4 linked regions of the Homo sapiens genome follow. The protein of the gene in region 1 interacts with the protein of each later gene in a pairwise test. Each region holds a gene or a part of one and is shown in the gene's direction. Other genes may lie near its edges. The genes, in order: AXIN1, SMAD7, LHX4 and JUP.

What was found.
Region 2: the proteins of AXIN1 (region 1) and SMAD7 interact in binary tests that used the Homo sapiens proteins (3 or more experiments, as listed by UniProt).
Region 3: the proteins of AXIN1 (region 1) and LHX4 interact in binary tests that used the Homo sapiens proteins (3 or more experiments, as listed by UniProt).
Region 4: the proteins of AXIN1 (region 1) and JUP interact in binary tests that used the Homo sapiens proteins (3 or more experiments, as listed by UniProt).

What each region holds. Positions count from the first base shown.
Region 1 is NC_000016.10:293,719-300,741, reverse strand, and holds part of AXIN1 (axin-1), read left to right. Parts: intron 1-1,537; coding exon of another isoform or gene 1,538-1,558; exon of another isoform or gene 1,559-1,731; intron 1,732-2,443; coding exon of another isoform or gene 2,444-2,467; exon of another isoform or gene 2,468-2,482; intron 2,483-2,490; coding exon 2,491-3,020; intron 3,021-3,515; coding exon 3,516-3,686; intron 3,687-7,023. UniProt on the Homo sapiens protein: Component of the beta-catenin destruction complex required for regulating CTNNB1 levels through phosphorylation and ubiquitination, and modulating Wnt-signaling.
Region 2 is NC_000018.10:48,940,955-48,947,977, reverse strand, and holds part of SMAD7 (mothers against decapentaplegic homolog 7), read left to right. Parts: intron 1-5,170; exon of another isoform or gene 5,171-5,319; coding exon of another isoform or gene 5,320-5,422; coding exon 5,423-5,497; intron 5,498-7,023. UniProt on the Homo sapiens protein: Antagonist of signaling by TGF-beta (transforming growth factor) type 1 receptor superfamily members; has been shown to inhibit TGF-beta (Transforming growth factor) and activin signaling by associating with their receptors thus preventing SMAD2 access.
Region 3 is NC_000001.11:180,261,250-180,268,272, forward strand, and holds part of LHX4 (LIM/homeobox protein Lhx4), read left to right. Parts: intron 1-4,953; exon of another isoform or gene 4,954-4,981; coding exon of another isoform or gene 4,982-5,004; intron 5,005-5,142; coding exon 5,143-5,345; intron 5,346-7,023. UniProt on the Homo sapiens protein: May play a critical role in the development of respiratory control mechanisms and in the normal growth and maturation of the lung. Binds preferentially to methylated DNA.
Region 4 is NC_000017.11:41,755,699-41,762,721, reverse strand, and holds part of JUP (junction plakoglobin), read left to right. Parts: intron 1-3,851; coding exon 3,852-4,007; intron 4,008-4,203; coding exon 4,204-4,323; intron 4,324-4,937; coding exon 4,938-5,088; intron 5,089-5,185; coding exon 5,186-5,307; intron 5,308-6,507; coding exon 6,508-6,547; intron 6,548-6,826; coding exon 6,827-6,978; 3' UTR 6,979-7,023. UniProt on the Homo sapiens protein: Common junctional plaque protein. The membrane-associated plaques are architectural elements in an important strategic position to influence the arrangement and function of both the cytoskeleton and the cells within the tissue.

The sequences.
Region 1 (7,023 bases):
GGAGGCAGCATAGCTGCATCCGCCAGGGGATGCCCACCACCCACCTGTCCCCCGGCTCTGCTCCAGCATCCGTCTGTCCTCTTTAGTGCCATATTTCACCCTCAGCCCCAGTGCAGGTGCCCGCAGCCAAGCCCACACCAGCTCTGGGGCACGCCTGTTCCAGTTGCATTTGGATACTTTTGCAGGTGTGAGAGTTGGGTGCTAAACGTTGGGAGGTTTGTTTATATTAAAATATAGAGGTAGGTGGGGCACAGTGGCTCACATCTGTAATCCCAACACTTTGAGAGGCCAAGACAGAAGGATCACTTGAGGCCAGGAATTTAAGAGCAGGTTGGACAACATAGTGAGATTCCCCATCTCTACAAAAAAAAAAGAAAAAGAAAAAATTAATGGGACATGGTGGCATGCACCTGTAGTCCCAGCTACTTGGCAGGCTGAAGCAGGAGGATCGCTTGACCCCTGGAGGTTGAGGCTGCCTTGAGCTGTGATGGCACCACTGCGATTAGGTGTGGTGGCTCACACCTGTAATCCTAGCACTTTGGGAGGCCAAGGTGGGTGGATCACCTGAGGTCAGGAGTTCGAGACCAGCCTGGCAAACAGGGTGAAACCCAGTCTCTACTAAAAATACAAAAAATTTAGCTGGGCATGGTGGTGGGTGCCTGTAATCCCAGCTACCCGGGAGGCTGAGGCAGGAGAATTACTTGAACCCGGGAGGCGGAGATTGCACTACAGCCTGGGACACAAGAGTGAAACTCCGTCTCAAAAAAAAATTAAATAAATAAAAATAGGCCGGGCACGGTGGCTCACACTTGTAATCCCAGCACTTTGGGAGGCCGAGGTGGGCAGATCACGAGGTCGGGAGATCGAGACCATCCTGGCTAACACGGTGAAACTCCATCTCTACTAAAAATATAAAAAATTAGCCGGGCGTGGTGGCGGGCACCTGTAGTCCCAGCTACTGGGCAGGCTGAGGCAGGAGAATGGTGTGAACCCGGGAGACGGAGGTTGCAGTGAGCCGAGATCGTGCCACTGCACTCCAGCCTGGGTGACAGAGCGAGACTCTGTCTCAAAAAAATGAAAATAAATAGGCCGGTTGTGGTGGCTCACTCCTGTAATCCCAGCACTTTGGGAGGCCGAGGGTGGTGGATTACCTGAGGTTAGGAGTTTGAGACCAGCCTGGCCAACATGGTGAAACCCCGTCTCTACTAAAAATACAAAAAAATTAGGCAGGCATGGTGGCACACTCCTATAATCCCAGCTACTCGGTAGGCTGAGGCAGGAGGATTGCTTGAGCCCGGGAGGTGGAGGTTGCAGTGAGCCAAGATCGTGCCACTGCACTCCAGCCTGGCTGACAGAGCGACTCTGACTCTAAATAAATAAATACATACATAGATACATGGTAACTTAGTTCCCTCTCTTTCTTTTGTATTGACACCAGATTTACTCAATACTGTTTTAGTTTGTCAGTCCAATAAGATGAGAAAATAAGTATGAGATGCAACTTGGAATTAAAGTGATCAAATGTTTGCTCTGACAGATAAGCTTCAGCACCTGTTAACTTGGAGAATCAAGTGAAACTCCACCGGCTTCATGTGGAAGCTCGTCAGGCAGCATCACAACATGTACATAACCCAAGAGCCGTTCTGTACAAGGTTCTCCTTAAAATATAATGGGAGGCCGGGCGCGGCGGCTCATGCCTGTCATCCCAACACTTTGGGAGGCCGAGGTGGGTGGATCATGAGGTCAGGAGTTCGAGACCAGCCTGGCCAACATAGTGAAATCCTGTCTCTACTAAAAATACAAAAATTAGCTGGGTGTGGTGGCGCACACCTGTAGTCTCAGCTACTTGGGAGGCTGAAGGAGGAGAATCACTTGAACCCAGGAGGCAGAGGTTGCAGGGAGCCGAGATGGCACCATTGCACTCCAGCCTGGGTAACAGAGCAAGACTCTGTCTCAAAAAATATATATATATACAGGCCAAGGCAGGCAGATTGCTTGAGCTCAGGCATTCGAGACCAGCCTGGCCAATATGGTGAGAATCGCATCTGTCCCCAAAGTACAAAAAAATTAGCTGGGCGTGGTGGCACACGGCTGTGGTCTCCGCTATTCTGGAGGCTGAGGTGGGAGGATCGCTTGAGCCTAGGAGGCGGAGGCTGCAGTGAGCTGAGATCACACCACTGTTCTCCAGCCTGGGCAACAGAGCAAGAACTTGTCTCAAAAAAAGAATAAAACTAAACTAAATCTGTGCAGAGCTCTGCCCACAGCCGATACATACGCTGCATTCCTTGAGGCCTTGCTGTCTCCGCTCCTTCTGTCTATGCCCCGTCCTGCCTCTCCATCCTCAGGGACAGGACCGGTGGCGAGGGGCCCCCGGCCACCCTGGGCTGGGACGGCATCTGCTGGGGCTGCTGGGTCAGGCCTGATGCTTTTTGTTTTCCCCAAGTGTGCAGCTGGTGCTGAGAGGTGATGGTGCTGCTTGTCCCCACACAGGAGGAGGAAGGTGAGGACGGCGATCCATCGTCAGGGCCCCCAGGGCCGTGTCACAAGCTGCCTCCCGCCCCCGCTTGGCACCACTTCCCGCCCCGCTGTGTGGACATGGGCTGTGCCGGGCTCCGGGATGCACACGAGGAGAACCCTGAGAGCATCCTGGACGAGCACGTACAGCGTGTGCTGAGGACACCTGGCCGCCAGTCGCCTGGGCCTGGCCATCGCTCCCCGGACAGTGGGCACGTGGCCAAGATGCCAGTGGCACTGGGGGGTGCCGCCTCGGGGCACGGGAAGCACGTACCCAAGTCAGGGGCGAAGCTGGACGCGGCCGGCCTGCACCACCACCGACACGTCCACCACCACGTCCACCACAGCACAGCCCGGCCCAAGGAGCAGGTGGAGGCCGAGGCCACCCGCAGGGCCCAGAGCAGCTTCGCCTGGGGCCTGGAACCACACAGCCATGGGGCAAGGTCCCGAGGCTACTCAGAGAGTGTTGGCGCTGCCCCCAACGCCAGTGATGGCCTCGCCCACAGGTGAGCGTGCGCCTGTCAGTGAGGAGGGGGCTTGGGGTGAGGCTGTGTCCCTGCAGAAGGCCAGAACCTCCTCATAAAACTCAGGAAACCCAGGACCGCCAGCAACAGGCAGGAGGCCCCTCTGCTGGAGGGAGTGGACTGGGCCCTGGGTCAGGGGAGTCCACGCCGTGACCTCAGGTGGGAGATGAAGGTTAGGGGACACAGCCCGACCCTGGCTCCCGCTCTGGCCCTCAGTCTTCAGGGGGTGAGCAGTGACTGCCTGTGTGTTTAGAGAGGAAACCAACCCCCAGACAGCACCAGGACAGCGGGCAGGGGACAGCGGGTGGGGGACAAGCTGGCGGGGGACAGCGGGTGGGGGACAAGCGGGCAGGGGACAGCGGGCGGCGGCTGCACCACGGGAGCCTTACAGATGCCAGGAGGGGGCCTCGCAGACGAGGAAGGGGCACAGCCTCGGCCACCGGAGGCCAGGGCGACTCGCAGCTCTTGCCCTTGCAGTGGGAAGGTGGGCGTGGCGTGCAAAAGAAATGCCAAGAAGGCTGAGTCGGGGAAGAGCGCCAGCACCGAGGTGCCAGGTGCCTCGGAGGATGCGGAGAAGAACCAGAAAATCATGCAGTGGATCATTGAGGGGGAAAAGGAGATCAGCAGGCACCGCAGGACCGGCCACGGGTGAGCACCCCGCACGCAGCCAGCCTCGTGGGGCCTGCTTTGCCACCCCTGGCCTCCGCACAGTCTCAGTGTGTGCAGCTTCAGTGTGTGTGGCGAGTGTCGCCTGTGACGCCTCACACTTCCCCTGTCACTGTGGCACCCTCCCGGGCACCCTCCAGCAGGCTCCCTGGGCCCCACGTCTCCAGGAGGAAAACCTCATGTCCCCAGAGAGAGGCTGTCCCTGAAGCCCCGAGCAGGAGGGAAGCTGACGTGGCTGTCACCCCGCAGGCAGCACAGATGCTCTCGGGAGGTCATTTCCAGTCTGACCCCCACATGAGAATGACCTAAGTCACCTGGGAAGGCCCCCACTGACCATCACTCCCGAGGTGCCCACGGAGGAGCCTTCTGTGCTCACACCTGGCCGTCCTGCTGAGGGCTGGGGAAGGCTCTTGTGTAGCGTGAGCACTTCTCTCCTCCCAGAAGGGCAGAGGCCTCGTGTGTGGTGTGGAGCAAGGCCCCGGCGCCACAGGTCCAGCCCCTGCCGCTGCCCGCCGGGCCGGTCTTGGTGTTGCTCCTGCTCGCCCCCTGGGCCTGCACTCGTGCCCGGAACCCAGCAGGAGGGCCAGGGGCCCCACAGAGGTGGTACCCCCCACCTTCCTGTCGTGGTCAGAGGCAGGTCAGCTGGGAAGTGTTGGCCCTGGTGGGTGGATGGCCCCAGCTTCCTCAGACTTAGGTCCTGATCTGCCCCCCACCCTCACCCAGGCCCTGGCCAGGACGCATCTCCCTCCACATTACTTGATGAGAACTTGTGAGGCAGCTGAGCGCCTGGGGCGTGGCCCTCCTGCCTGTGTTGGAAGCCTGTCCCGCAAGGCCTTGGGGTCCCCATCGGTGCTGACTGAGGTGGGGACGGGCTCATCGTTTTTCTGGGGCTCCCGAGGGAACAGGGGTGCACAGCACCTTGCCTGGCTCATTTTTTGTAGAGGGGGTCTCAGTGTGTTGCCCAGCTGGGTCTCAAGCTTTTGGGCTCAAGTGATCCTCCCACCTTGGCCTCCCAAAATGCTGGGACTACAGGCATGAGCCACCATTCCTGGCCTTCGAGTCTTTTTTTTTGAGACGGAGTCTAGCTCTGTCGCCCGGGCTGGAGTGCAGTGGTGCAATCTTGGCTAACTGCAACCTCCACCTCCTGGGTTCAAGCAATTCTCCTGCCTCAGCCTCCCGAGTAGCTGGGATTACAGGCGTGAGCCACCACGCCCGGCTGATTTTTGTATTTTTAGTAGAGACCGGGGCAGGGGGTGGTTGCCATGTTAGGCTGATCTCGAACTCCCAACCTTTGGTGATCCGCCTGCCTCGGCCTCCTGGAGTGCTAGGATTACAGGCGTGAGCCACCGTGCCCGGCCGAATCCTTTTTTTAAATAGCTGTATATACTAAATATTGCATGTCCCATATTTTAGGATAAGTATTAATACATTCCACTTTGAGACATACTTATACTTTTTATTCATTAAGACTTTTTTTTTAATTTTTTGCGACAGAGTCTCCCTCTGTCACCCTGGCTGAAGTGCAGTGGTGTAATCACACCGTTCACTGCAGTCTCAGCCTCCTGGACTCAAAGCTATCCGCCGGCCTCTAGGATTAGTATATAATTTGTATCCCAGTAAAGCTGTTAAAAATAAAATGTAAAAAAAGAAGCCTCATCCCAGCACTTTGGGAGGCCGAGGCAGGTGGATCGCTTGAGGTCCGGAGTTCGAGACCAGACTGGCCAACATGACAAAAACTCCATCTCTACTAAAAAAAATACAAAAAATTAGCCGTGTGTGGTGGCGAGTGCCAGTAATCCCAGCTACTCGGTGGCTGAGGCAGGAGAGTCGCTTGAACCTGGGAGGCGGAGATTGCAGTGAGCCGAGATCCGAGGTCGAGCCATTGCACTGCAGCCTGGGCAACAAGAGCAAAACTCTGTCTCAAAAAAAGAAAAAAAAAAAGTCTCCATGAAAGAATTTTTTTTTTTTTTTTTTGAGACGGAGTCTTGCTCTGTTGCCCAGGCTGGAGTGCAGTGGCCTGATCTCAGCTCACTGCAAGCCTCGCCTCCCGGGTTCATGCCATTCTCCTGCCTCAGCCTCAAGAGCAGCTGGGACTGCAGGCGCCCGCCACCACGCCCGGCTAATTTTTTGTATTTTTTTAGTAGAGGTGGGGTTTCACCGTGTTAGCCAGGACGGTCTCGATCTCTTGACCTCGTGATCCGCCCTCCTCAGCCTCCCAAAGTGCTGGGATTACAGGCGTGAGCCACCGCGCCTGGCCTTTTTTTTTTTTTTTTTTTTTTTTTGAGATGGGGTTTCGCTCCTGTGGCTCAGGCTGGAGTGCAACAGGCCAGTGTCAACGCACTGCAACCTCCACCTCCCAGGTTCAAGTGGTTCTCCTGTCTAACCCACCTGAGTAGCTGGGATTACAGGCACCCACTATTATGCCCAGTTAACTTTTTGTATTTTTGTAGAAACAGGGTTTCACCATGTTGGCCAGGCTGGTCTTGAACTCCTGACCTCAGATGATCCACCCGCCTCGGCCTCCCAGCGTGCTGGGATTACCGCGCCTGGCCATTTTTTTTTTTTTTTTTTTTTTTTGAGATGGAGTCTCACTCTTGCCTAGGCTGGAGTGCAGTGGTGCAATCTCAGCTCACCGCAACCTCTGCCTCCCAGGTTCAAGCGATTCTCCTGCCTCAGCCTCCCGAGTAACTAGAATTACTGGTATCCACCACCACACTTGGGTAATTTTTTGTATTTTTTGAGTAGAGTCATGGTTTTGCCATGTTGGCCAGGCTGTTCTTGAACTCCTGACCTCAGGCGATCCACCCACCTTGGCCTCCCAGAGTATTGGGATTACAGGCAAATGAGGGTTGGTTTTTTGTTGTCTTTTTTATTCCTGAGACTGAGCCTCACTCTGTCACCCAGGCTGGAGTGCGGTGGCGTGATCCCGGCTCACTGTAACCTCCACTTCCCCAGTTCCAGCCATTCTCGGGCCCCAGCCTCCAGAGTAGCAGGGATGACAGGCGCCCAGCTAATTTTGTATATTTAGTAGCGATGAGGTTTCACCATGTTAGGTTGATCTCGAACTCCCGACCTCTGGTGATCTGCCCGCCTCGGCCTCCCGAAATGCTGGGATTACAGGTGTGAGCCACCATGCCTGGCCGGGATGTTTTTATTGTGTGGTCTGTGGAGGACGTCCATGTGGCTTGGTGGCCAGGCCCCAGTGCCCCATCCCATCCTATCCCTCAAGGAGGCTGCCCTTGTGAGATGAGTGTAGCCCCACCAGGCCACCTGGCCAGGGTGTCGGCCACAGTCACAACTTGTTCTCTTGTTCCCCAAG
Region 2 (7,023 bases), on another chromosome or scaffold:
AAAGGTGCAAAGAAGACTTTGGTCTGGAGTAGACACTAGAACTTTTCAGAAGTATAGGCAACAGCCAGTAAAAGGGGGGGGGGGGTAGGTTCCTCCTGCTCCAGTCACCTGCAAGTCAGTCCTCTCCCGGGGTTTTCTCAGTATTCGCCATAGGGACTATCAAAGTTTGAAGCATAGCTCTGCCTGTCTGCTGCTTTGTCACTGGCTGGCATGAAGCCATGGCAGAAGCCCATTTGAGACTGGCACCAGCCCTGTTGTGGTTGTCTGCATTCAACTTCTGGCCGGCAGCAGCACAGGGGTCCATCCTCTGGACATCACAGTGCTGGGGACAGGGTCAGCAAAATGAACTTGGGGGTGACAACAAGGACAAACCCAAATTCCTGGAGCTCCCTCTTACAGTAGGAGATAGATCTGTTTGCTAAAAGTACAGGTTGTATGTAACCTTGGTTTTTGTGCCTGTATACTGGTGCCTGAAAAAAACATTAATACTTGGGACATTTTTATTTTGCCAAGGTTCTGGGAGAAGGAAAAGTGAAGGGTTGGGCACCATTTAGCTCCTGGAATTCTGCAAGTCCTTCCGCCTCCTGCGTTTTGGCTGTTGGGCCTTTCCCCCCACTAATTAAAAGTTTTGCTGGGGCGTTGTCATAAATTAAATACTTTAATGAACGTGTAACCGAAGCCCATACTCTGCAGCCAGTCCTCCTGGGACTCTACCAGCTCCCTCAAGTTGGGAAGGCGTTCCTGCTTGCCTGGTGCCGGTCTAATAAGTGGCCCGCAAAGCATGTGATATTTTGCTTTCGATTTACAAAACACCAGATAAATGGTTATTAATAAGGAGATACCCAGCTCTCTGTATTTGTAACAAACGTTAACTGGAATTACCAAGCTCTGTTTTCCTAAAGACTGTAACTTGACTGGGTTTTGGCTTAAAGAATCAAGAATTCTTTTATGAAGTTCATTTTCCAAGGGGCCACCTCTGACCTGTTTTTTTTGTCCTTCCATATTCTTCAAATTTGGAGGTTTTCCTTAAAAGAGAGAGAACAGTGACCTTAGCCCCAGGGATAAAGACCAGCAGGGGTAAATGTTCCCAGAAACCTCCAAAAACCATAGAAAAGAAAGGCCATGTTCCCTTGGGTTTCCTGCAGAGACACTGGGATAAATCTGTTCTCAGGATTTAAGCAGTCATTCTGCCAGGCCAGGGCCTCATTTTCGGTGAGTGGAGTGATATATTTATTCATTAGCAAGTGTTGACATTAGGTAGCAAAATGTGTGTAAACAGAGAAGCCACAAAGACAGGAATGTGCCATTTCCAAGGGGGAGAAAAGTTCTCCAGATCAGCCAATAGGAAGTGATTAACCTGCCAATCGGAAACTAAGACAGCTGGTTACTCACCCAAAACGTTTTGTTGAAAATAGAACAAAAAAAGAAATGAGAAAAGGCGCTGCTGTGTAAGAATTTAGCATCAGTAATAGACAAAGCCCCCACGAAGGGAATTGTCCTGCCACATTGGAGGACAGCCAGGTCTGGAGCTGGAGCACACCCCCCCCGCCCCCCTCACAGGTCTGGGGCTGGTTTTGCCAGCTGCTGTGGCCGGGGGCATTGAGGTCAGACCACAGATGGGCGCTGACCCAGGTCTTCATCCCCATTTTGCGTATGGGAGAATGTTTGGCCCGGGAATCTACATGGACCATTTACATTCTTCAGTTTCTATGTCCCTTAGGTTGAATTTTTGGTCTTGGGTTACTAGATGAAACAGGCACAAAGTTTTACAGTGGACAACTGTTAAAATCTTAACCAGTTGCACAACTAAAGGAATACATCCTGTGAAGTCTCCATCTTAGGAAAAGGTGGTGGGAATGGGGCTGGGGCCTGGTACCCTGCAGCCTTTGGAGACACAGAGGGCTCAAAGCTAGGAACTCCATTTTGCTATAATTTAAGCCACTCCACTCAGCATCTGGGAGGCCTGGACTTTAGACACCTAGGTACTGTGTGGTCCAACCAGGAGAGCCTTCTTTGAAAGAGTGTTCACATGACTGAACCTAGGGGAGGCCAGTTGTGACTTGTGGCTGTCAGAAGTCAGAAAGACACCCCCACCTCCACATCCCACAAGAAGTCAGAATTTGCTGTTTAAAGCTGGATCTCGGGGATAGCTGTGTGGGCTCTGCTTCCCGTGTTTCATTGTATCTGATGGTCTGAAAGGTTTGAGGAATGGCTGGCCTTGGGGGGTTGCTGGGTGAGCTCTTGAGGGACCCAGGTGGCCAGTATCCATGGGCAGATCCAGCCTGCAAATCCAGATCGGAAGTCTGGTGTCTTGACCTGAGATCTGGCACTGCGTTTCTCTCTTAACCGAGGTCCCTCTTAACTTTTCTAGGCCTCTTTTAAAATCAGCATGATGAAAGAGATTAGGTCATTCATTCATTTATTCATTCATTGGTTCAGTCATTCATTTTACAGGCATGATGATGTGCCTACCTAGAAATTTGAGGATTCCGATGCAGTGCTGTGTTCTTTTTTTTTCCGAGACAGTCTCATTCTGTGCCCAGGCTGGAGTGCAGTGGCCCGATCTCGGCTCACTGCAAGCTCCACCTCCTGGGTTCACACCATTGTCCTGCCTCAGCCTCCCGAGCAGCTGGGACTACAGGTGCCCGTCACCATGCCCAGCTAATTTTTTGTATTTTTAGTAGAGACGGGGTTTCACCGAGTTAGCCAGGATGGTCTCGATCTCCTGACCTCGTGTGATCTGCCCACCTCTGCTTCCCAAAGTGCTGGGATTACAGGCGTGAGCCACTGCACCTGGCAGTGCTGTGTTCTTTTATAACCAGGGTTCATTTGAGTTCTGGGTTGGTTGAACTACCTGGGGCAGAGCTGGGACCCTTGGGGTACAGTGGTGAGTAGGGGCTCCTCTGTCTTTAACAGTACTTAGGAAGCTCAGAACGCAGTTGCTGAGACTATCGTGGGACTCCCAGCTCCTTTACCTTGTACTCATTCTCAATAGTTCGCTCCTTGGCTGCTCCCCAGGGTTGGGTTTTCAAAGACTCTGTTGGAGCTGCTCGGAGAAAGGAATGAGTCTTTTTCTCTCGCAGAACCTAGTGCTTACCAAGTGCTTGATAACACTTAGTGTTGCGTGAGTCAGGAGTGGCCTAGAGCTTCTGTCTGCCAGCCAGCCTGGGCTCTGGGGAACAGGCGACACAGGCCTAAGGTGAGACCCTGACTTCAGAGATCTGTCTATGCGGAGCTTTTCTGTGGGTGAGAGATGGAGGTATGGCTCCTTTAACCTTGAGGCCAGTCTGGATGGCCTGGCCACCTCCAGGAAAGAGGGTAGGGACTCCATAGCCTGCCTGGGGAGTGAGAGCCATGGGATAGGGCTGGACTCTTGGGAATAGCCCAGCTCACTGGGTGGCCCTTTGAGCTAGTCAGTGACGCCTCAGTTTACCTGGCTGCCTATGGAACAGGTATACTTTGCTTCTTCACAGGGGTGGTAGGGAGGCTTAATTAACGTTTGTAAATCCCTCTTGAGATCAAAGCCACTGCAGAAGGGCAGAGCACCATTTCACAAAAATGCTTGTGGTTGCCTGTGTGGAGCTGGCTTACCTTTGATCTGAGATGGGCTGACACCCTGAATGTGGTCTCAGCTCTGCTCTGAGATGCCCGGCTTTTCCTTTGAAACACACCTTGCCCCTGGGATTCTGCCAGCCAAAGGTGGCGGGGAGTGGCTGTGGATAAGTCATTATGTTTAATGTGGGGGTGTCTTCCATCTGGGAGGAGTGGGTGGAGGAGAGGGTTGAGAAGCCTATCTCTAGAAAATGATGAAGGCCATCAAAATGGTTTAGAAAGTGCAGGGTATACACCATTTAACAAGTAACTCCATTTCCTGCCTGCCTCTATTGTTTTCTGTTTGATTAAGTGTATCCTGTAAAACTGTATATTCCTGTTAGGAATTAGACTTTACCCTGATAAAATGAGATTACACACACAGTCTTCTTTCCCCCTACCCACCGCAGCCACCTCACCCCCACGCCTGCCTCCACTTCTGCCCCTCGCCCGCTTAGGAGAGTTCTTGAAAAGTTGTCCTTCCAGCCTTGAGAATGTGGGAGAGGGAGTGACCCTGAGTTAGAGAGAGAAACTTAGCATTAAGAGGGCAGACAGCAGAAACCCAGAGATGGTTTGGGGCTATGTGTAGGCCACTAAAGGATTCCCATGGGCTACTTGCCCGTCTGCTCTTTTTTTTTGGCTTTCCTATTTGCCAGCATGGCCAAGTGGTTCCAACTGGAAACCCACAGGGACATTGTCCTGGTGGCCTGGGGTAGGAGGCCTGGTGTCTGCACGATCCAACCTGTTGTGTTTGCTGCGGACCTGGGCAGCACCTTTCCTTAGCCGGGCTCTCCGCTAGGACTTCAGGGAGTTTGGCGCTGCCAGTGGTGCATGACAAGCTTACAGGGTCTTGTGTATTTGTGTTTCATGGGACTAATGAGTTGTGGTTCATGGACATTAGGTTTTGCTTTAATTGCTTGGAGGGCGGTTGTGGAGACTGTTTCTCAGCTGGAATTGTCATTATCCTCATTAACGGTGAGGTCACTGTGCAGAGTACCTGAGGGTGACAGAAGTTGAAGAGAAGTCTAGTTAAGGGCAGATGCAATCTAAAGGTAAAAATCAGTGAGGAAACTCCGAGTGTTGGGTGCCAAATGTTTTATAGGAACTGAGGGCAGAGAGCCTTAGCAGGTCTGGGGTTGCCTGGGAAGGTTTCCAGAGATGAGGGGTTTGGACTAGCCTGGGAGAGGTAGAACATTTCCCCTCCGGCTCGGAGCCTTGCTGAGAATGTTCTCTGTCTTGATCTGGTGGTGGTTACACAGATGTATACATGAGTAACATTCATTGCGTCTACTTGGGATTTTGTATACTTTGCTCTACTTAAGTTAGTCCTCAATTAAAAAAGGGGAAAGAAGTCCCGGCAGCCCAACATCAATCTTGAGAATGTTTTCAAGAACTGGGAAACCTGTCTTTAAAAGGATGAAGGCAGAGAGGACATGGGCTCCAAGGAGAGAGCCTTCTGCCCTTGATGAGGGATGACAGAGCAACCAGGGTTGAGAAAGTCCAACCCAAACCTCCTTTGACCTTGGGAACCACCTGGTATCCGTAATGGGGGACTGGTAATGCAAGAGAAATTCCAGCCAGTCTCATTGAGCCTGACTCGAGTAATGATTAACTGGCTGCCCGGAGCCCAGACGGGTGACAAGGTGCTGTGGTCTGTCTTACGATGGGCAGTGAAGCCTGAGCAGACCATTAATAATCAGCATCAAGGCCGCGAGTCAGCCTTTTGGAATGTGTGGTTTGTCTTTCATGCTGTTTAGAGCGTGCTTAAAGATGGATCTTGGTGTTTTTATTTGTGTATTTATTTCTTTCTCTCCCCTTTTCAAATCCACAGCAGACTGTCCAGATGCTGTGCCTTCCTCCGCTGAAACAGGGGGAACGAATTATCTGGCCCCTGGGGGGCTTTCAGGTAAGATGCTTTCTCTTATTTTCCTGGCAATTCCAACCTTTTTTGAAATTGCTAAAGACTGGAGGAATGGGGGTGGCCTTCTGCCACCCCAGCTGGTCTGGACTTCATTCTCATTTTTATATGCCTTAAGTTGGATGCATCGGTGGTGACATTGTGGTGCCCTTCAGCTCCTCATCCTGCAGTCCTTTACGCTCTGGACACTGGATCCGTTCCGTGGACGGGGAGACAAGAGCGAGCTGGGGATTGCTTTGGTGTGTGAAGTGTTGCCCGGTTATTTTTAAGCAGCTCCTGGCTTGGGGGGCTTCAGCTTGGTGACTTTGGTGTCATTAACTCATGCATTTGAGCTCTTTTTTTGCTTTTGCTCTTTGCGCATGGGGGATGTAAAGGGAATGGACCCACCTTTAGGGAACTTGTTGAAGACAGATCCCAAGCATACGATGGGATTTCAGAGTAGATCTGAGGCTTCCCTCCCAAGTTCTGATTCCCAGCCCAGCCTGCTGCAGGATTTTGCAGCACATGTCTGGGGCTGGGAGCACCAGGGTGGGAGCACTGCCAACAGTAGGAGCTGTAATTGTTCCCTAGCGGGGCAGGTTTTCCTCAGGGCTCACAGGTATGCGTGAAGGCCTGGAATGCCAGTGCTGGGGGGTCACGGGGCTGGCTGACAGGCACGGGGTAGCCAGAGCATTGTTGTTCCTGAGGATGCGAAAAGAGGGCAGTACTTAGAGAAACTCACTGGTTATGTACATGGGACGCATTTCATGTTGTTCTGAAGAAATCCTATTTCTACCTGTTTTTCCATCCCCACCATGTCATCACTAGATTTTCTAAGAACTGGCTGAAGCAAGAGGGAAAACGACCTTAAAAACAGAAATTCCAGCAGAGTTTTGGGCATTTGGCATTTCCTTGCCTGTAGGATCACGTGGTAGCAGCTCGAATAGAAGCTGTGCCCTGTTGTGGTGTATCCTCTTGTGTGAGGGGCACCCTTTTTTGTGGGGTACCTGCTCTGACTACTTGGTGGTGTGTCTTCCATGGCTGGCTCAGGCAAAGTTCATTCCCGGACGGCTCCCTCCCCGGCTCTCCTCTTCAGGAACTGAGCTTGCTGAGAACGTCTTTAGGGAGACCCTTGTTTGTTTTCATTTCAATGCAATATATACTCTGTTATCTGAGACTGAGGGTATTGTTTACTCAAAGCTTCTAATGAGAATTGAGCAGGAAAAAGAGGGACCTAGAGAAGGGAGGGGGCTTCAGGCAGTACGGTGGGAGTGGACAGAGGAGTTGAGGAGGGAGAAAAGGCAGCAGTGTGTGAACTGCATCTTTTCTGCTTTCTAAGGCTGAGAGAGTTCTTGAAAGAAAGAAGGCCAATGAGAGGAAAGGGTCTCAGCAGAATAACACGCTCAGGATGTTGTTAGATGGTTTTATTTTTTAAACCCTGAATGTGCAGGGAGGAGCCCCGGCCCCTCCAAACCACATGAAATAAGCAAGGGAAGTGGCAGCTTTTGAAAGGGTCCTTTCGGAAGGTTTGTCTT
Region 3 (7,023 bases), on another chromosome or scaffold:
AGTGGGGCGCTGCCCTGAAGGGTGCGGGGAGTGGGCGGTAGAGAAGGGAGGCAGGCAGGGATCATAGCATGCCTGTACATGGATGGAAGGAGCCAGCAGAGGGGAAGCTAATGACAGCAGAGGCAAAGGGGATGGCTCACACCTGTAATTCCAGTGCTTTGGGGGCCAAGGTGGGAGGATCACTTGAGACCAGGAATTCAAGGCCAGCCTCGGCAACATAGTAGGACCCAATCACTACAAAACATGTCTTAAAAAATGAGCTGGGCATGGTGGCATGTGCCTGTGATCCTAGCTGCTCAGGAGGCCGAGGTGGGAAGACTGAGAGTTCGAGTGCAGTGAGCTATGATTGTGGCACTGCACTCCAGCCTGGGCAACCGAGTGAGATCCCCTCACCCCTAAAGAAAAGAGCTTAAAACTGCTTCTCTGCTCTGAGAAGCACAACTAACTGCCTTCACTGAAATATACCTCAGGCAGAGATTTGGGGTGAGATAGTAGGTCAGTTGATGTTCTGCAGGAAGGGGCAGCTTGTCCATATCAGCTCGCTCACGCCGCCAGTCCATTCTTAAGGAACTGCCAACCAGGACTGATGATGCATTTTAGCTTTGAGCTTTTGGGGGTTATCCTACCAACAAACAGTCCTTCGGGAAGAAAACAATCCCAGGAATTAACAGATCAGAATGTTCACACTGGTTAATCTTTTTCTAGCAATGAACATGAAGCTAGCAGAAGCTGGTGTGTTTCCAGATGGTTCCTCTAACCAAACTAATTTTTCACTGTTGACAAGTGAGGCAAGGGTTGCACTGGACCAAAGGCTGAGGCTTGGCCATCTAGCATTCCATGCAAAATGGTTTCCTATAAGCATTCCTTTTATTCTCTATTCTATCCTGGGTCTGCCTCAACCATGAGATAGGAGAGTCTCCGGTACTAGCTGCTGTAGCACTGCCCTTCATCCAGGACAGTTAAAGGAGTCTTGGACCTTTCTTTCTCTGGGATCGCTGCCCAGCACCTTCCTACAGAGATGACTTTGAAAGGAAAAAAAAAAAAAAAAAAAGGAAAAACAGCACACCATTCCAAGGAGCCTGGCATTCCTGAATCCTCCTTCCCTACAAGGTGCCTGTCACCTGTCTTTACTGCCTCCTTTTCCCTGTCATGCTCATCAGCTATGGCTTCTGTCCAAGTGCCTGAACAGAAGACTAGAACCTCCACTGCAGGCTGGTTTGAGGTCGTGATTTATGTCAGAATCTTGCACAGCACTGCTAATGTAAATTTCAGCTTTTTCCCTCTAGGATAAACACTTACCAAAGTATGCAACTTTTTTTGGTGGGAAGAGGGATTGTCCTGTGATTTCTACCCATTTTCTGAGGCCTGTGGAAATAAATCTTTAGGTACTTAAAGTTAGACCAAAAATAGAACAAAGTTAATACCAAACTTGAAAAAAAAAAAAAAAGAAAAGAAAAGAGCTGCCATTATGGAGAGCCAAGCCTCCCCTGACTACTCAGGCAAATGTTTTAAGAAGCAGTTCGTTCGTTCACTCATTCGTTTGCTCATTCGTTCATTCATTCATTCATTCATTGGGTCTTTGTGGCTTGCCTACTATGTGCTGGGCAGGGATAAGACAATTTCCAGTGGTGTTGGTTAGAGGATGAAAATAATATGAGCCATTAGCAAGTCTTCCTTGCATTTTCTCTGTGGTTTTGGATCAGCTCCAGCTGCTCTCCTGGGGGGACTGGTTGTCCCCAGAGGCCTGGCTAGCAGGACTGGGCAGCAGGCTTATCTTTCTGAAGGGTGAGGCCAGTGCCCTTGGTGCCCCTGCATGGGTGCCCGGTGATCGGTGTTAAGGGGTGCTGCTTGGAAAAGCCCTTGGGAGCCCTCTTCCTTGGCTGGAGTCCAGCCTTTCCCTCTTTACCCCAGCGTCCTTCATATTTGGTCCAGTTGGTTAGACTTCTGGTTCTCTGTGTAGCAGCCGGGTTCACAGTTTTACCTCGTGTGGGGCCAGGGAATTCTAGGCATGACCGTGTGTCTCATTATTGCCTGTCGCAGGGCAAGTCATGTGACCTGCCAGGCTTTGGCCTTCTCACCTGTGACTCTGGCTATTCTAAGATCTGGGAATGGGGACAGTGTCTCCATCACAGACACACCCCTGTAGGATGCCCTGTATTCTAGATACACTGGCTCTGACTGGAGATGGGGTGGAGGGTGATCTGCAGGGCTGGGCTGGGCCGGGGGAGCCTTGTGGGCCAAGGAGGTGCTGCATGCGGCTCCCTCGGCAAGGGTCCCGCTGGCTGTGCTCCAGGGGAAAAGGTAATGAGGAGCCACTTCCACTTCCCTTCAGTATAAATCCCACAATCAGGAAAATTGCTTCAATTGCTAAAAAACGCTGGTGGGGAAGTCCACTTATTTTTCATTTTTCTTGTGCACTTGCCACCCTCATGCATGAATCACTGTCGGTATGTAGATTAAATTTATACCCCCGTTATCTTTCATGTCTCTGGTGTGCTGGTGTCAGCTGGGCCTCCGGTGACTGAAAGCCCCCTGCCTGCTTTTTAGTGGGAGAGAGTGTGGCCCCTGTGGAGGAGGCTGCTGAAGGGTCTTCCCTCTGTTCCGGGGTCTCCTCTCAGCCCTCCTCTCCTTGGATCTCTGGTTAGGACACATTCTCCAGATTTGCGTGGTTTGTTGGGAGGGTTCGCAACAAGCATGATGAAAGCCTTGTTTCATTTTAATTAATTAATTTAGAGACAGGGTCTCGCTCTGTTGCCCAGGCTGGAGTGCAGTGGCGTGATCTTGGCTCACTGTAGCCTCAACCTCCCTGGGCTCAGGTGATCCTCCCATCTCAGCCTCCCAGGTAGCTGGGACTACAGGTGCACACCACTACACCCGGCTAATTTTTTGCATTTTTTGTAGAGGCAGGGATTCACCATATTGCCCAGGCTGGGCTCAAGTGATCCTCCTGCCTCAGCCTCCCAAAGTGCTGGGATTACAGGCGTGAGCCACCACACCTGGTGCCTTGTTTCATTTCAGTACCTGCTTTGCAAATTGGCTGGGATTGGATATTAAATATACAGGCCTTTTGAAAACACTCTCTAGTAACACATGTGTAGGCTTCCTTTCTCTGTTATACACACACACATAACACACACACACACACACACACACACACACACACAGTAGAGGTGGGTGCCTGCCAGCCTTCCTCTTTGATCCAGGTGATGTGGTTACACAGCAGTTGTGGAGGACCTGGTTCTCACCTGTGTTCTGGGAGGTCTAGAACCATCCAGAGCCGACTGTGTGCTTTGTTCTACATCCTCAGGTTCGGCCATCTCCGTGCACATCCTCTACAAGTATGGTGCTTTATCTGCTGATTTATTTATTCAACAAATATTAACTCTACTTTCCTGGGTCCTGAATCCCTTTAAGAATCTGATGAAAACCCAGGTCCCCTCCTGAGGCACAATTTTGAACAACTTAGCAGGTGGTTTACAGGCCTATGCTGACCCTCACGCAGAGAACTCCTGCTCTAAATGGGCCCCATCTCTCTGAAAACCAAGAGGCATTCCAGGAATTCAGAAGCCTGGGGTCCTCCCAAGCCACCACCTCTCAGCCCCTCACACCCCAACACCCTTCTTATACCCATCTCAGAAGAGTGTTCCCTGAAGTACACTCTGGGTCTTTCAGGATTACCCATGCAGACTTAGAGAACCCCCACTTTTCTCTGGGATGCTGTGTCCCTGGTGGGGGGCGTCTGAGGCTGCTGCTGGCCATGCCTATTCCGGGCCCCCATAACCCCCTCAGCAGGTATCATTACTGCATAACAGACCTATCATTCTGCATTAATCTGGTATTCATCATGATAGCCATGACCATAATTAATTTATTTGGTATTAATGTGGATGAAATATGTACTGTCCTTTCAGGGGAAATCAGGCTGCCTATAAGCATTAGTTAAAAGGACCATTAAAATCAAACCTTCCCCAGATCCATTAGGCGAAGTCTTTCATCCTGAAGAAGATAAAGTTCTGCTGTGTGAAATGTCATGAATAATTAGGTTGATTGCTGTTTTAAACTCTGCCCTTGCTTTCCCAATGCCTCCCGCCTCCCTCCTGAAGCGGGGAAGGCTCACCTGCAGCCACGCACCCTCCTTCACTGTCCCTGTCGGCCCCCAAATTTCCCTCGTCTCCTATGACCATCGGTGTGCCTCTGTTGATCTCTATGACCAGAATGGGGAAAGGGAGTGGAAACAACCCCACTGGACGATACTTTTAAGTGTCAATTTCTCCTTCCTTCCCGGCCTTGGCAGGGGGTGGCTTGCTTGGTAGAAGCTGCCTTGGTGGCAGCAGGTAGCTTCCTTTTGCCTCGGTGTTGTTCTGGAAAGGTGCTGACCAAGGAGAGGTCTGAAGCAGCATTTTCCAAACTGTAATCTGCAGACTCCTTGTCCCGAATGCTGTAGGGGCTGAAAAGTGCAGCTTCCTGGGCCCTTCCCAAACCACCATGCCCCAGGCTGTGTGCGTGCATAGGAAGGGGATGGAGGTAGGCTTGGAGGGCTTTGTGTGTGCAGAATGGAGGTGAGGGGAGAAATGGAGGCAAAGGAGAGAGAACAGCTGTCAGGACAGCCTTGCTCTGCTGACAAAGTGCATTTTCTCTGCAGCGTGCTGTCCCCTGGCCAGGCAGGGCCTCCTCCCTGGGAGTGTGTGAAAAGGTGTTGCTGGGTGCTTTCTACACACAGCCTGTGGCACACACAGTTCCCTGTGAGGATGTCCTCTGGGATCAACCATAAGGGTGAGGAAGCTGGGAGGTGGAGGGGGAGACAGCCTGCTTTGAGGGACTTAGAAAGTCCACCTGCTCCCCCTGTGAATTGATGGGTGTTAATCGGGCAGCTGGAATCCGGGGGCATCAGCTTTGGAAAAGGTACCTGAGGGAGACTCTAGTTCTCATCAGTCCCTTCTTTGGTGGTTGAAGAGTCCCAGGCACAAAGCAATGAAGCTAGATGGAGGCAGAGAGGACCAGACGGTAAGCTCTGGGTGACTGGGGGGTGAGGCTCATGGAGTCCCGGAGTGGTGGGGTAGGAGGGAGGCTGCTCCAGGAAGTTGGGGGAAGCCAGATCCCTTGCTCCCTGTGTGCCCTAATCCTTTCCTGCTGCCCTGACAGGCGCTTCGGCACAAAATGCACGGCCTGCCAGCAGGGTATCCCCCCAACCCAGGTGGTCCGCAAGGCCCAGGACTTTGTCTACCACCTGCACTGCTTTGCTTGCATCATCTGCAACCGGCAGCTGGCCACGGGGGACGAATTCTACCTCATGGAGGACGGGCGGCTGGTGTGCAAGGAAGACTACGAGACAGCCAAGCAGAACGGTAAGCAGCATGGCCCCGCATGGTCCCCTCTCCAGGCCTTTGTTTGGGCCACGCCCTCTGCCTGAGGTGCCCTTCTCATGGCGTCCCACCTGCCCATCCCTCAGAGCCCTACTCATGCACCGCCACCTCTGAGAAGCGTCCCAGATCTCCACACTGAGAGTAAATGCTGAACACCTCCCCGGCCGTTAGCACTCGCCGGCTTCATGGAAGTGTTCATCCAGCCATGGTTCCTGAGAGCCTGCCTGTCTCCATGGTAGGCTCAGAAGCAGCCAAGAACCTGGTTGTTACCATGGTGGTGGCCTCCTTCCCTGGGTGGAGGCTGGGGTGCTGAGGGGTGGCTGGGAGCTTGGTCTGTATTGGACACGTGGGGCTGCCGCTTAGTTTTGCACATCAGGGTGCACATGGACCTCTCAGCAGCCCCTGCCTCAAAGGCCGTCGGTGAGAGCCCAGCACTGGCCTCTGCACACTTCATACATCTGTCTGTTAATTGTGTTCTGTTCGCCTCGCAGACTGTGGGCTCCTCTAGGGCAGGGCCTCCTGGAGTTTCTGCAAGTGCCCAGTGAGTGCTAAAAGAAGAGGCAGGACACATGCCAGATTCAGGGAGGCTCCGTCTCAGCAATATAGCTCCCTCCACCCACTTCAATATAGCTGCCCCCACCCCCTTCACCACAACCACTGCAGGGCCACTGCCCACGGTGGCAGCAGGAGCTCTGCATGGTGGAGGCCGAAGTCAGGTCCCGCATTTAGCAGCCACGCCTGGAAAGGCCTAGCTTGGCCTGGCGGCAGCGGCTCTCGCCCTACATGCCATGCGCTTGGGCAGCCCGGGGACTTTCCAGCGTAGAGCCCAGAACAACACATTCCCCATGCTCCCCTCGCAAAGCCAAGGTGGACACTTTTATTCCTGCAGCCCTACCTCTGGCTTCTCACTCCCAGATGCACCCACATGGTCGTGGGGTCAGGCCCTGGCTCTGAATTTGGGATTTGGCCAAACCCAACATGATAACCTCAGAGGTGTGAACGCACAAAACATCAAGTTCCTTGGCCTTTGACTAGAATTTTGATCAACTCAGGGTGTTACTGTGCAAAAACGGCTCTTGTTGACAGCTCTGGGCTTGATGAGAAAAAAAATTAACAACAATTTTATGTATCTCCTTCTAGATCTTTTCTGGGCCCACACACATATTATACAGATCTCATCAATAATGGAGAAACTGGTTTTTTGTTCATTGAACACAGTATAAAATAAGGGGATTGTGGTGGTGAGGAAGCAGAGGGGATTCATAAGGGCCCTTTAGGTGAGCCAGCTGGAGCTGGGTTTGGCTTTGGTCCATGGCAGGAGTGGGCAGGGCTTCCTGTCTCTTTGAGGACCTTCCCTCCCACCACCCCCACAGCTCTGGCCTTTCAGGGTGGACAGAGGCCTTTGACCTCCTTCCTCCAGAGACCTGGGGCCTCTGCAAACCCATCCCAAGGCTCTTTGCCTGCAATGTACTAATCTGCTCTGGTTTCTTAAAACTCACTCCATGCTATTGCCTTGAAGTCAATTGTGATGTCATGGGAGATTAGGGCAACTTGTCAGGGATGAACCATCACAGCAGATGGACTCAGAGATACCAAGACACCTTTGGAAGTCTAGTGCCGTTCATCAGAGATACTAAGATGGCACGACCTCCCCGGCCTG
Region 4 (7,023 bases), on another chromosome or scaffold:
TCATTAAATTGCAGGTTCCAGGGCCAGGCACGGTGGCTCATGCCTGTAATCCCAACACTTTGGGAGGCAAAGGTAGGAGGATTGCTTGAGGCCAGGAATTTGAGACCAGCCTGGACAACATAGCAAGACCTGTCTCGACAACAATAACAACAACAGAAATTAGCCAGGTGTGGTGGTGCACGCCTGTGGTCCCAGCTACTGGGGAGGGGAGGCTCAGGTCGGAGGATCGCTTGAGCACAGGAGTTGGAGGTTACAGTGAGCTATGATTGCATCAGTGCACTCCAGCCTGGGTGACAGAGCAAGAACCCGTGTCTTAAAAGAAAAGAAAAACAGGAGGCTGGGTGCAGTGGCTCACATCTGTAGTTCCAGCACTTTGGGAGGTGCAGGCAGAGGCGGAAGCGGAAGGATCACTTGAGGCCAGGAGTTTGAGACCATCGTGGGTAACATAGTGAGACACCCATCTCTTACAAAAAATTTGGAAAAAAAAAAAAGCCCAAACAAATAAACAATCTAAAACACACACACACACACACACACACACACACTCTCTCTCTCTCTCTCTCTCTCTCTCTCTCTCTCTCTCTCTCTCTCTCTCTCTGTCTCTCTGCAGGCCTGCTGCAGAGGGCTTGCCATTCTGTATGTCTTTTTTTTGTTGTTTTGAGACAATGTCTATTGCCCAGGCTGGAGTGCAGTGGTACATTCTTGGCTCACTGCAACCTCTGCTTCCCGGGTTCAAGTGATTCTCCTGCCTTGGCCTCCTGAGTAGTTGGGATTACAGGTGCACGCCACCATGTCTGGATAATTTTTGTATTTTTAGTAGAGATGGGATTTTGCCATGTTGCTCAGACTGATCTTGAACTCCTGAACTCAAGTGATCCACCAGCCTCAGCCTCCCAAAGTACGGGGATTACAGGTGTGAGACACCAGGCCCGGACAATTCTGTATTTCTTCTTTTTTTTTTTTTTTTTGAGACGGAGTTTTGCTCTTATTGCCCAGGCTGGAGTGCAATGGTGCGATCTCGGCTTACTGCAACCTCCGCCTCCCGGGTTCAAGCGATTCTCCTGCATTTTTTAGTAGAGACGGGATTTCTCTATGTTGGTTAGGCTGGTCTTGAACTCCTGACTTCTGGTGATCCACCCACTTTGGCCTTCCAAAGTGCTAGGATTACAGGTGTGAGCCACTGCACCTGGCCCAATTCTGTATTTTTAACAAGCTCGCAGGTGCTGCTCCATGGAGCACATTTCTTATGCCACTGGGTGTAGACGAGAGGGTTGTCCTCACACGAATGAGTGGACTGTATCATCCCCACGGATGTGTTCTAGCCCTGAGAACTGGGGATGGCTAGCGGCCACCAGAAAGTGGCACACATCACTCCTGCTCACACCCCAGAACTTGGTCATTCAGCCACATCAAGGTGCAAGGAGGTTAGGAAGTGTGATCACCAGCCAGATGGCCGTGTGTCCTGCTGAAAATCAGGAGAGCCACTACAGAGACACAGGGCACAGAGGATTCTGGGGACGCTTAGCATCTCCCATAGGGAGTTGGGTGTGTGAAGGAGTGGGGTCTTCTTCTTGAGGCTACCTGGGTGGAAGAGAGCTAGCTGTGTGTCACTTCCCTGTCAGGTGGGGGAAGTGAGAGTGGGTCAGGGTGTGGGCAGACCCAAGGGACAGAGTTATGGGGGAAAGCGTTTGTGTGTGTGTATATCTATATGTAGAGACAAGGAAGGCAGCCAAAGGCAAGGTGGCATCTGGTGCCAGAGAGTGAGGAAGCTACCATCGATGAGGGTCTTGTCAACGGGCACAGGAGCCAGCTGGCAGGGGCATCCGCCAGCTACATTTAAGACAATTTAATAGTACAGACAGGCCAGGCGCAGTGGCTCACGCCTGTAATCCCAGCACTTTGGGAGGACGGGGCGGGAGGATTACCTGAAGTTAGGAGTTCGAGACCAGCCTGGCCAACATAGTAAGTCCCCGCCTCCACAAAAAATACAAAAATTAGCTGGCCATGGTGGCATGTGCCTGTAATCTCAGCTACTCGGAAGGCTGAGGCAGAAGAATTACTTGAACCCGGAAGGCAGAGGTTGCAGTGAGCTGAGATCGCTCATTGCACTCCAGCCTGGGTGACAGAGAGAGACTCCGTCTTGGAAAACAAAAACAAAAAACATGGCCAGGCGTGGTGGCTCACGCCTGTAATCCTAGCACTTTGGGAGGCCGAGGCGTGTGGATCACGAGGTCAGGAGATCGAGACCATCCTGGCTAACACGGTGAAACCCCATCTCTACTAAAAAAATACAAAGAAATTAGCCAGGCGTGGTGGCGGGCGCCTGTGGTCCCAGCTACTCAGGAGGCTGAGGCAGGAGAATGGTGTGAACCCGGGAGGCGGAGCTTGCAGTGAGCTGAGATCGCGCCACTGCACTCCAGCCTGGGCGACAGAGCGAGACTCCGTCTCAAAAAAAACAAACAAAAAAACAAACAAACAAAAAAAACCCAGTGCAGATAAGAATGACTCTAAGTGATTCTACACATTGAATTATTATTTTTTATTATTATTATTATTTTTGAGACAGATTCTTGCTCTGTTGCCCAGGCTGGAGTGCAGTGGCATGATCTCAGCTCACTGCAACCTCCGCCTCCCAGGTTCAAGCAATTCCCGGCTAATTTCTGTATTTTTAGTAGAGACGTGGTTTCACCATGTTGGCCAGGCTGGTCTCGAACTCCTGACCTAAAGTGATCTGCCTGCCTTGGCCTCCCAAAGTGCTAGGATTACAGGCGTGAGCCACTGCGCCCGGCCTATACATTGAATTAAAAAAAGAAAATTCATGTTTAGAAAAAAAAATGTCATTGTGACCCCTCCTTGATGCTTGGTCCCTGCTGCAAACCTGAGGTGGGACTTTGCATCCTAACCCAGCAGCTAAGTGGCAAGTGACTTTGGCAAGTCATTTGCCCTGTGCTCACGTCCCCATCTCACATGATTTTCATCCCTGTCCTCCTGGCGTCTTGTTTTGAGGATGAAATAGATGACACCTTGAGAGGCTCTGGGAGGCCAGAGTGGCTCCTCTGAGTCAAAGACCCTGGGGAGGAGATCTCAGGACACCTCTTTCCAGAGCTGCCCTGCTGGGGATTAATGACAATGTGAGCACCACCCAAGCAGGAGGCTTCGGGGGCACCTAGAGCACAGAATTCCTGAGAATCAGGCTTGGAGGACTATCAGAAAAGCAAGCAAGGTCATGGTGTCTGTGGGGGGTGGTTAAGAAAGAGGGGACAGGGTGAGGGGCCAGGCATGGGGCTGGCAGGATGTTCTGGAATGGGGTGTCATTTTAGCAAGGGCTATTAGAATTAGCCATGAGCAGCCGGACGTGGTAGCCCACACCTGTAATCCCAGCACTTTAGAAGGCAGAAGCAGGCGGATCACCTGAGGTCAGGGGTTCGAGGCCAGCCTGCCCAACATGGCGAAACCCCGTCTCTACTAAAAATACAAAAAATTAGCTGGGCATGGTGGCAGGCACCTGTAATCGCAGCTACTCAGGAGGCTGAGGCAGGAGAATCGCTTGAACCCAGGAGGTGGAGGTTGCAGTGAGGTGAGATTGCACCACTGCACTCCAGCCTGGGTGACAAGAGCGAAACTCTGTCTCAAAAAAAAAAAAAAAAAAGAATTAGCCATGAGCACTCCCAGATCCTGTGGATTAAGTGACATGGCTGGGATGGTCTCCTTCTCTGGATATTTTCCAGTATGTCTGTGTCTGGCCTCGGGGACAGAAGAGGTGAAGGAGGGAAGGGATACTTGAAGCTGGGAAGCTGGGATCCTTCAGATGTCCAAGAAGTGCCCCTGATCACTGCCCCTTTTTTTGCCAGGCAACCATCGGCTTGATCAGGAATCTGGCCCTGTGCCCAGCCAACCATGCCCCGCTGCAGGAGGCAGCGGTCATCCCCCGCCTCGTCCAACTGCTGGTGAAGGCCCACCAGGATGCCCAGCGCCACGTAGCTGCAGGCACACAGCAGCCCTACACGGTATGTGAGCTGGTGGTGCCTCTGACAGCCTTCCTGGGGGGTCAGGGTGTCCTCTGTGGGTGTGTGTGTGAATGGGGAGGTCAGTTGCAACTGATGCCAATTCCAAGAACCTGTGAAGTTCATTCGGCTGTCATGGGGAGGAGTTGTGGCCATGTCCAAGGCACCTGTCCCATGCCCCCTGCCTCCTCTCACACAGGATGGTGTGAGGATGGAGGAGATTGTGGAGGGCTGCACCGGAGCACTGCACATCCTCGCCCGGGACCCCATGAACCGCATGGAGATCTTCCGGCTCAACACCATTCCCCTGTTTGTGCAGGTGAGTCTGGGGCAGGTGGGCAGGAGAGGTCCCCCCACCACTGCTTAAAGGGCAAGGTTAGGAGTCCCAGATTTGGGAGGCCTGGACCAGGTATCAAGAGGTCTTTGGAGGAGTTTGGAGGAAAGTTGCCACTCCAGATTGACTACTTAGCAACCCCCTGCATGGGCATGGCTTTCTAAGCTTCAAAGCAAGGAAAGAGATCACAAATGGAAAAAAAAAACAAAAAACAAAAAAACTTGAGATTCAACCATATAAACATGAAAACCATCTGTATTTCAGAAAGAACCTAAAAAAGCATTTTTAAAAAATCAGCAAACTGGGAGAATATGTGCAAGTACCATAACAGACAAGAAGAGTCTAACATCTTTCACATCAGTGAGCTCATTAACACTAGATTCCAATGGTTAGATGAGGCAGAGTCACAGGTAATTTCAAGGTAGCTCATGAACAATGCTCAGCCCAGTTTAAAGCAGTAACACTTACTCCCCAGTGACGGCCCATTTTCCACTATGGAATTGCTACAGGGTGGAGGTGGGCAGTGCTGTGGGGTGTGTTGTCCGGCCTGCCTCACCCCTTTCCACCTCTCCCCTGCTTCCCACGTCCCCTCTCCCCAGCTCCTGTACTCGTCGGTGGAGAACATCCAGCGCGTGGCTGCCGGGGTGCTGTGTGAGCTGGCCCAGGACAAGGAGGCGGCCGACGCCATTGATGCAGAGGGGGCCTCGGCCCCACTCATGGAGTTGCTGCACTCCCGCAACGAGGGCACTGGTGAGCTGGGGGAGGGCAGGAGGCTGGGTCCCACTCCCCCAGCCACGATGGAGGCTGGCCGACGTTTAACCTGGCTTTTCCTTTCCTCTCTGCTCAGCCACCTACGCTGCTGCCGTCCTGTTCCGCATCTCCGAGGACAAGAACCCAGACTACCGGAAGCGCGTGTCCGTGGAGCTCACCAACTCCCTCTTCAAGCATGACCCGGCTGCCTGGGAGGCTGTGAGTATCCTAGGTTGGACCACAGTAGTTGGTTGTGCAAGTTGGGCACTGCCCATGGGCAACACTTTTGGGGGTCTCCTACTACTGTCAACTTCATAGATTTTTATTTTGTAATTGGATCATTTATAACAATTCCTAGCAGATGGAAGTAGTGGGTTGAATCATATATCCACAAAATGCCAATTTTTATTTTGCCCAAATGAGTATACAGTGTTTGAGGTGGGGGTGCCTTTTTGTAATTTGCGTGGAGGTGCTGGATAGGCTATGGGCGGTCTTTTCCAGGGTGGGGCAGTGCCCTGTACCCATTCTTGAGTCCTCTGCCTCCTCCCCTGAGCTGCTCTAGTCCGGCAGGAGTCCCTGCTTCATGAGTGGGGAACCCTCCTCCCTGGGGAGTACCGAGGACATGAGTATATCAGGGCACTGGGTGACCCCATTTCATCATCCTCTATTCCTCCAAGGCCTCTTTGCTTTTCTCCAGCCCCCTCTTTTATTTATTTATTTATTTTTATATTTTTTGAGATGGAGTCTTGCTCTGTCGCCAGGCTGGAGTGCAGTGGTGTGATCTTGGCTCACTGCAACCTCCGCCTCCCGGTTTCAAGCAATTCTCCTGCCTCAGCCTTCTGAGTAACTGGGACTACAGGTGCACGCTACCACACCCGGCTAATTTTTCTATTTTTAGTAGAGACGCGGTTTCGCCATGTTGGCCAGGATGATCTCGATTGTCTCCTGACCTTGTGATCCGCCCGCCTTGGCCTCCCAAAGTGCTGGGATTACAGGCGTGAGCCACTGCGCCCAGCCTATTTTTTATTTTTTTCGAGACAGAGTCTCACTCCTGTCGCCCAGGCTGGAGTGCAATGGTGTAATCTCGGCTCACTGCATCCTCTGCCTCCCCATTCAAGCAATTCTCCTGCCTCAGCCTCCCGAGTAGCTGGGATTACAGGCCTGCACCACCACGCCCAGCTAATTTTTTTTGTATTTTTAGTAGAGACAGGGTTTCACCATGTTGGCCAGGCTGGTCTGGAACTCCTGACCTCAAGTGATCCGCCTGCTGTCTCCCAGAGTGCTGGGATTACAGGCGTGAGCCATGGCACCCAGCCTGGCCCCCTCTTTTAGAAGCATCTCTCCCTGCCCACCAGCTGAGATCCAGCTCGGAGCCTGCATTTTCAAACCTCCCCTCCATGTTTCTCTCTCCTTTTTCAGGCCCAGAGCATGATTCCCATCAATGAGCCCTATGGAGATGGTAAGTGTGTGCCGGGCTCTTCAGGACCCTGGAGATCCTGGGCGGCTGTGTGGGTGTGTGTGAGGGGACAATATTATGTCTCCGGGGCCAGAGGACCAGTGGCAACTGCTGTGTGGCATCCACATGTACCCCAGTCTAGATGCCCTGGTGTGGGGTCTGGGGAGGGGTCAGGCCCACCAGGGGTGGGCATGGGTAGAGGAGGCAGCTGAAGGCTGTGCAGACTGCTCCCTGCAGGGTAGCTTGCAGACCCTAGGACCGAGCCCCACTTTTTGTCCCCAGACATGGATGCCACCTACCGCCCCATGTACTCCAGCGATGTGCCCCTTGACCCGCTGGAGATGCACATGGACATGGATGGAGACTACCCCATCGACACCTACAGCGACGGCCTCAGGCCCCCGTACCCCACTGCAGACCACATGCTGGCCTAGGCGGCCTGGCCCCAGTACGGCCCCCTCTTTGCAGGCTTTTCCTCC